Linked DNA regions of Homo sapiens: region 1 is linked to region 2. The links come from fine-mapping of genetic effects on gene expression. A gene starts in region 2. The other region holds a variant in brackets. All regions are shown on one strand. Distances are between the middles of the regions.

Evidence for each region. PIP is the estimated chance that this variant, and not a neighbour inherited with it, causes the effect. A credible set is the group of variants that fine-mapping cannot tell apart.
Region 1: its variant is the best candidate, but not a certain one, in a credible set for the expression of PCMTD1 in whole blood (INTERVAL, PIP 0.67).

Annotation. Positions count from the first base shown.
Region 1 is chr8:51,844,668-51,849,059 of GRCh38, forward strand. PCMTD1 (protein-L-isoaspartate (D-aspartate) O-methyltransferase domain containing 1) reads right to left here. Exons shown (of 6, transcript NM_052937.4): 3 at 994-1,096. Among named protein-coding and RNA genes, the nearest start is that of PXDNL, 37 kb to the left of the region's middle. The variant A/G (reference allele first, on the strand shown) is at 2,206.
Region 2 is chr8:51,896,853-51,901,244 of GRCh38, forward strand. PCMTD1 (protein-L-isoaspartate (D-aspartate) O-methyltransferase domain containing 1) reads right to left here and starts at 2,184. Exons shown (of 6, transcript NM_052937.4): 1 at 2,078-2,184. It overlaps PCMTD1-DT (PCMTD1 divergent transcript), which reads left to right and starts at 2,463. Exons shown (of 4, transcript NR_189279.1): 1 at 2,463-2,994. RefSeq lists a silencer at 1,691-2,380 and enhancers at 2,421-2,710, 2,881-2,940, 3,241-3,300.

The sequences.
Region 1 (4,392 bases), 52 kb before region 2:
GGGAAAATAAACATTCCTCTGAAGATATTCACAAGGTTTTTTAGCTTCTTCTCTCTGGTGGTGTCCTTCAATCTAGATCTTTCTAGAGAAAAGCCCTCAGTTCTGATGTAGCCCCCTCCCTCAAGTTGTTGATGGTCATAGCCAAGGGCTGGATATAAATGAGGGCCAACTCCCAACAAGCCGAGTTGAAATTCTCAGTGTTTTTGCCTAAAACTTTGTTCTTTAAAGTGACTGTTCTAAGCTTGTGTTTTCTATCCTTTTTAACACTTTTTCTCTTTGAAAATCAGATACACAGTGAAATGAGAGATGTAAAAGCTCTCCAAATTTTACACAATTTCAAAGAGCTCATGGATTTCAGCGTAAGTGCTCTTGCTCTATAGCAATGCAGAATTTTAGGATTACACACCAAATGGACTTTTCCTGCCAGCCCAAGGACCAAAGCCCGTGCAATGTTTCTTCTAAGAGGAGTTATATTGTGAGTTCAAAACAATGGTTTTATAAACCAATTTCTTATTAACAATCCTATCACAAGATATATCAATGTATTTCTATGATCATTTCTTCTGGATATATTACAAAGTAGCTGAATATGTTAAAGTCCTTTGTATACTGACTGGTACCACCTCTCATGTCCTGAAGAGGACAGAACTACTAAATTACTATCCAAAAGGTAAAAAACCAGTTCCAGACAAATATTGCAATCACAGCATTATTACACTGTATCTCCAGAAAAGATAGCTGAATGTTTAATGAATTCAACATTACTAATAAAGTTGTAGTAGCAAAAAATCACATTATTTATAATTTACTATAGAATTACATATAGTAAAAGTTATACCACAGAATAATCTTAACTTTTTCTCATTTTATGGTGCACTGATTTTTGCTGCATTCAATTGAGCCAGTCAGGATCAATAATAGTGTTCAAGAATAGACATGTTGCATGTATCTATTAAGTGATTTTAAACCAAAACTATAGATATGAATACTTACTTATCAAAGCTATCACTATTTTTGATGAAGCTCTCCAGTTTTTCCTTGGCATATTCCACCACATCTGAATGAAGCTCAATCCCATGATTTATTCCAAAAGGACCTGCAATCGTAGCAGCATTTTTATAAAAAATATTAATAATATGCCCTTACAGAGCTCTTTTTTAAGTTCTGCTCATTTATACATCACAGGAGTATTTAAAGATGGCTTGAAATATGCAAATACTTCCTAGCCTCAGACTTAAAAGTTGAATGGAAATCCACGTACATTGCTTTAATGTAAAAAAAGGGGAAAAAAAAAAGTTCGCCTGAGTTTTCTATCAAAAACTACTACCAGGGATAAGGTTGAAACCTACAGAGTTCTCCCAAGAGAGTAGCTTATCTGGCAGGACAAAACTGCCAAAAGAATAGTATTTCTAAGTGAAGTTTAAGTTACTTGCTATTATTTTATCATTTGCTAAAAAATTGGTAATTCAAAATACCTAAAACCATGGGCTAACACAGATATTACATGAATGTCTCAGGGCATCGCTACCCCCAGCCAGTAGAGGCTAAATTCCCACCCCACTCCATGCCTTTTGGAGCTCCCAGTGCCTAGCAGAATGTGGCCATTGGGCAGCATGCTGGACTTGACTCTCATGCTCCAGCATCTTTTACACTTCTCACTTAGGCTTTCTCTTTGCATATGCCCATGGACGGACTACCTCCCAGGAAAAGGGGAATGAATAGAGGAGAGTTTTCCCAGCCCCGAGAGATGTTATTGGGCTGGCTCTTTTCCCTCACCCTGAAAATACGAGGACTCAGTGTCTCCTAAGGCTACTGTACATACATACTAACCTGCCCCATGACCCACATGAGAATATAACACACAAATTACAGTTAGTCCCTTTTCAACTTCTGAAATTCAGCCAACCAGGTTTTCCACTCAACATTTTTGTTTCACTTTGACATTGGTCCTGGAAGGTGTCTTATTTTCAGTATCTTTAGGAAATACTTAACTGGATGTGCCCTCTACCAAATGTCTAAAACAACAGTGCATATTTGGATTGTTTCTACTGACCATTAGGTACTTTTAACCAAAAAATCACAATCATAAATTGTCATGTTTGAATGTTGAAACAGTACATGTAAAATATGGTTTGCCATCTAGGAAATATCCAAACTATAAAAATTTAACCAAAATGTTCAGATATAATCTTAAACCCAAAATCC[A/G]ATAAGGATAATGCCTTCCCCTACTATACTTTTATAAAAACATTGCTTTTACTTGAAAAATGTGTTCCAATAGGAAAAATAAATAAAAAGGTGCTTGATTCATCAAACCACAACAGAATTAACTTCCTTTGCAATGTTTTTACATTTTATAAATTGTCCTGGTTAAAGCAATGTCAAACTTTTTGCTTGTTTCCTTCCTTATGAACTCTTAGCCTTCAACTGAAAACTGGAACGTCTGCCCAAAATCATTTATGACTTCTTGTAATTCCTATTACTCCAGATAAACTGAGTAAAACTAAAATTTTTATATTCAAAATAATAAAGCAGCCAAAAAATTAAACTTAGAAAAGCACAGTGACTTTTCAATATATTAAATGTAAATATTCTGAGAATTTGAATTTCCATAGATGTCAACATATAAAATGTTTTAAAAAACCAAATAGTTTACCTCATTTAAAATAATTCAAATACAGGCAGGATGTGGTAGCTCATGCCTGTAATCCCAGCACTTTGGGAGGCCAAGGCGGGCAGATGGCTTGAGCCCAGGAGTTCGAGACCATCCTGGCCAACATGGCAAAACCCTGTCTCTACTAAAAATACAAAAATTAGTCAGGTGTGGTGGTGCACACCTGTAATCCCAGTTTCTTGGGAGGCTGAGGCTTGAGAATTGCTTCAACTCAGGAGACGGAGGTTGCACTGAGCCAAGATCTTGCCATTGCACTCCAGCATGGGTGACAGAGCAAGACTCTGTCTCAAAAAAAGAAAAAAAAATGAAATAAAACTACACTTACTTAACATTATGTACATAGTAAGAAAAATACTATCCTATGACATAAACCTAATTTCCCTTTCTTCCTTTTAGGGTGATCCATTGACTATAAAACATGAGATGTTTACATTTTCATTATCCATTAAGAACCAAGGGCCAGGCACGGTGACTCACACCTATAATCCCAGCACTTTGGGAGGCCAAGGTGGGAGGATTGCTTGAGCCTAGGACTTCGAGACCAGCCTGGGCAACATGGCAAGGCTTCGTCTCTACAATAAACTAAAAAAAAAGTAGCCGGGCTTAGTGGTGCATGCCTGTAATCCCAGCTACTCGAGAGGCTGAGGCAGGAGGATTGCTTGAGACCAGGAGGTAGAAGCTGCAGTGAGTTAGTTGTGTTGCTGCCATTGCACTCTGGGCTGGGCAACAGAGAGAGACCGTGGTTTTGTTTGTTTTAAAAGAAGAAAGAAAGAAAAAAGAGAAAGAAAAAAATCTGGTTACATGTTTATAAAAAAAGAAAAACCAGGGCTGCATAGATAGGAGTTCAATTGAAAAGGTTAATATTGCTGGCACTCTTATGTTTCCTATAAGACTCTTATGTTCCTGCCACTACAATCCGGGCTGGGCAACAGAGTGAGACCGTGTCTTTAAAGAGAAAAAAAAGAGAAGAGAGAGAGAGAAAAAAAATCTAGTTACATTTTTATGAAAAAAGAAAAACCAGGGCTGCATAGATACGAGATCAATTAAAAAGGTCAATACTGCTGGCACTCCATGTTTCCTATAAGACAGAATATATAAATATAATAACAAAGGTGTTAAGAATCTGTAATCAAGGCTTCTAATCCATAGTTCAAACTGCATTATTAACAGAAAGAATCTGAATTTCAAAGTTCTAGGCTCTCAGTTAAAGACGCCACTGGTCTCTTTTTCGTTTTATTTTTCCTGCTTTCTGCTTATTATCTAAAAGCAAAGTGTCAACTTTTGCAAATAAGCTTAAAGAAAATTTCTTAATTTTTTTAAACATAACTTGTTTTTCATACTACCTTGACACAAGATATTTAATAATGAAAGATAAAGACAATTCATTAATATGTAAAGAATTTGACAAACAATATAAATATACATGCAAAATATGCTATGCATTAATACTGAATTGTAAACACCATTTATGATTTTTTATAGATGAAACTGTTTAATTTTCAATGACATGGAGGCACATCTTTAATGATCACTACTTAACAATATGAATGGTAACTAACATGTTCAAAGTAAATTAAAAAGAAAAATGCATTAATAAAAGGCAGAATTTAAATAGCAATGTCACCAATATCTCATTTATTTAGAATGTGATATACACCTTGAATGCATTAAGTGTATAAAAATGTAATGCAATGCTGATTATTACAACTCACATTTGGTAT
Region 2 (4,392 bases):
AGCACTCCTGAATATAAACACGCACTATTACAAAAAAAAAAAAAAAGCAATGGGATCTTGAGCAGTTCTTTTACTCAAAGCCTCTATTTATTACTCTATAGAATGAGAAGAATGTCATTTATGTTGTTATGAGAAATATATGAGCATATTATTACCAAAAATAACTAAAATGTCATGGATTTTTTTATTCCTTTCGAGCACAGTTTCCAAATCATAAAATACTACACAATTTGGCTTAAAATTTCAGGCTATGCATGTTTAGAACCAGACGTTGTTCGTGATTATCTTCCTCAGTTGTTCTTTCCCTGGAAGCTAGCACCAAGATGAACACAGTACATTTTTAATAAATACAAGCTAGTGATTAAATCAACAAAGCCTCCAGCTCTTCTGCACACAGAAATACAGTATGCAATGGGAATTTCCTAGCTTTCTGTCTTACTTAATAGTAGGCAGTGTAGTATCACCCCTCCACTTCCAGTTTACTCCCTATAGCTTACTTACCAAAATATTTAATCCCTGTTGCTTTTTTTTTCTTGTCTCAGGCTAGGGCCACTAGCTTTCTATCTTTCCTACCTTACCTTTCCTTCACATATTAGCTACTTCATGTTAAAGAAATTACAAGTGTTCAACTGACCATATGGAATTAAAATTTACTTAGAAAAAAATGAAATAAAAAAAACCAAAAAGTAAACTAATTCAGCAACTTTATGTTTTATGGAGTCATCTAGCCTCATGTAAACTACCATTAAGCAATACGTAAACATATTAATCTGCTTAATACGAAAGTAATGTCGTCTGGCCGCAGACATTCTGAAAGTTTTGCCACATTGTTTCAAAATATTGGCTTGTAGCCCTTTTCAAAGCTACTGATTATTGAAAACTTGGCGACCATGTTTAACAATGAAGAAAAGGCTTCCCCAAGCCTACGTAGATTGGATTCTCTAATACATAGTAATAATGTTTTTTAAAATAATGAGGTGTGTAATAAAATGGAGGAATATCCATGATGCATTGTTGGCTAATAAAACGATATACTGTACTATATATGATCCCAATCTTGTTTCTAAAGCACACTCATTAAATGCACAGAAAAAAAAAATCCTGAATAACTACCCACCACACTTGGAGACTGGCTACCCTGGGTAGTAAGAAGGAGAAATATGGGGGGAAGGGCGCGAGAGAGGGCAGGTTTCCTCATTGTTTGGCTGCTTCATGTTTTTCTCAAGGAGCAAGCAGTACTTTTGTAATTAAAAAAATAAATAGGGGAAAAACACTGCTAAAAGCATACTTTTTTCCTCCGTAGCAAATTCTTCTGATTTGTAATGTTAAAAATATATCTCTGGTTTCTCGATTCTAAAAAGAGGACACACGAAAACAAAATTATAGAAGTTCCAAAAAATCTTGGATTTGCAAAATTACTCCCTCGGGTTCTGCCCGTGGGTCCTCCCCATGCCGGTGTCTGAAATTCCCCAAGCAAAACGCGGGCACTGCACTTCCCCGGAACGGTAGTAGACGCTCAAAAACACAAAAAGAGGCCTTGGCGCCTGCTATAACCTCTCAGTCCCCTCCCAGCCCCCGAGACTTCCCCGAGTCTACGTAGACTGGATTCTCTGCCTCCAAAACCAAAACAGAAGTCACTGGGCGGATCCAAAACGGCCCTAAGGGGCCCGCGGGCATCTCAAGACGCCAGCCTCGGGACTCTGGTCCCCAAGCCCAGGTCAGAGCCGAGGACGAGCCGAGGACGGGCCGAGGACGCGGCGCCCCGGCCTCCCTCGGGCCCCCGACCTCCCCGGCCCCAGGGACCCCGGCTCCCGACCTCCAGGCTTCGCTGGGCCCCTTTCGACTCCCCGACCTCCCAAGTCCTCCGCCCCCGGCCCGTCCTTCCCCCAACCTGCCCCGCAGCGCCTCAGTTTCCTGGCCCCCGACCTGCCCGCCCTTAAGTCCCCCTGCCCCCGACTCTTCGGCTGCCGTCCCCCTGGCCCTCTGGCCTCCAAGCGCATCCCAGTCGCCCGCCCGGCCCTAGCACGCGGGACTCGCACACCCCACGACCCCGAGCCCCCACTGGCGGCGGCGTTACCTGTGGCGCGGGCAGCGGCGCGCAGGCCAGGCGCTAGGACTCGGCGGGGTCCGCAGCAGCCAGACGCCGCTACCACCACAATAACAACACGGACGCCACCGCCGAGTGGAGAGGCGGGGCCCGGACCCGCGACTGGAGCAGCCAGAGCCTCCCGGACTCCGGAGCCGCCGGGGTCCGGGCATGCGCAGAGAACCACGGGCACAGGGGCAGCTCCCCGCGGACGCCAAAGTCAACAAGGCCGGGAGACGCCCCCATCTGGCCCCGCCCCCCTCAGGGCTCGCTCCGCCCCCAAGCCCAAACAACGCGAGGCCTTGACAGGCCAGAAGACGATGGCGGTAGGGGAGATCACGCGAGAGCATGGCCTCCACCTCTCCTCCCCACCGCCATCTCCACGTTCTCGCACCGGCGCTGGGGTGCAGGCTTTCAGTGGTCTCAGGGCTACGGCTTGTCGGTGCCTCGCCGCACAGTCCCCTTTGCATTGAAGGACACGGTCTTACGGTGTAGGAGCATTTTTGAGGTGCATTCCTGGATTTGGAGGCGAACCCCCAATGGTTACCTCCACAGAGGCTTTGCGAAGGGCGCTCACTGACTTAGGTGAAGAGCGAAGGCTCAAGACTGTGCCGCTTTATAGTGGCCCCTTGACGTCCAGAAGTTCCCCCCAGCGCCGGTCATAAGCACTCCCGCCGCCTGGGCCCCGCCCTGCCTGCCAGGCGCCCTCCAGCCTCAGCTCCCGGACGCCCGGCGTGGCCGCTTTCTCGCGTCTTGCTGACCCGGGCCGGGGGCGTGTGCTCCTCCTGCAGCGGACGGAAGATGCTGGGCCACGCAAGTTTCCCTGGGCTTGGTTAACCACCCCAAAGCCCATTTCCAGAAGGAAAGGGTGTTGAGGAGGAGGGATAGAAAGTCGAGAAGAGGGCCGGGTGAGTGGCTCACGCCTGTCATCCCAGCACTTTGGGAGGCCGAGACAGGCGGATCACCTGAGGTCAGGACTTAGAGACCAGCCTGGCCTACATGGTGAAACCCCGTCTCTACTAAAAATACAAAAATTAGCCGGGTGTGGTGCCGTGCGCCTGTAGTCCCAGCAACTCGGGAGGCTGAGGTAGGAGAATCGCTTGAACCCGGGAGTCGGAGGTTGCAGTGCTGAGATGGCACCTGGCCTGGGCGGCAAGAGCGAAACTCCATCTCAAAAAAAAAAAGAAGAGGAAATGAGGCATAGGGGCAGGCGAGCCGGGAAAATATTGCTACTAAGGATCCTAAGCAGTGAACATGCTGTTAATACTTGTAAGACTCCTAGCAAACTGCATTTAATTTTTTAAATTAGTTTTAGTGTACATAAAGGCATGTCTTTTCCAAATACTGTACTTTTTGAAGTGTTCTTTGTTGTTCATTAATCTTTGTGCGTTTCCCTTCAGTCTCTAATAGTAGGTTGTAGCATGATTTGCTTCCATCGTGTGAATTCTGTTCGGTTTTGATTTTCAAGTATGAGAGTGAGCGTAAGCTACCCTTATAGGTTACCTAAGGTAAGTTAGAATTAGAACGTCTTTATGCTAGGGTTACTACTCCCCACCATAACCAACCATCTGCAAAAGCGTTCAGAAAGAACATGCTAGCAAGGTCAAAAGCTTCAAATCACGAAATAAGAACTTGAAAACGAGCAAAATTGCTGCTGAGGCGCTCTGCCATTTAACTCAAAGGCTTCACTTTATTTAGGTTTAAAGTATGAGTGCATATTCAGTGGACATTGAGCTCCGAACTGTTCAAAATCTCTATTCATCTGCATTCTGGAGTAGAGCTGCGGGTCACATTATTAGCTCCATCTTTGGATTTCTGCCTGGACCCAGGGCACTCCTAACCGTTGTGGGATCATATAACAATCTTACAGGATGAATTTTCTGTTAGTCCAAGCAGAAATTTTGGCACATGAAAACTATCTTACCATAAACAAACAAAAAAAGTACAAATGGTAATCTAAGGAAAATAGCTAAAATCATTAAACAACTCTTACAGCCGTTTCCCCTGTTTTCTCTCCATTTTTTAAAAGCATATTTTCCTTTACTTTCTTCCTTCTGCTATGGGAATTTTTCAGGGTTCTAGACCTTTTTTCTCTTCTGCGGCTGGAAAGTTAAACACAGGTCATTTTTTAAATAAGACTGCTAGTAAATACCTTCTTAATAAACAACACCAAATGCTAGTCTTGTGGGTGAGTAGTTGAACAGCAAGTAAAGCACTCTATCACCTGTAATTTTCCTGTGGTAGGCACACCCCATCTCTACCTTCACGTAATTTCTGATTATGCCTCCATACCTTACACATATAAT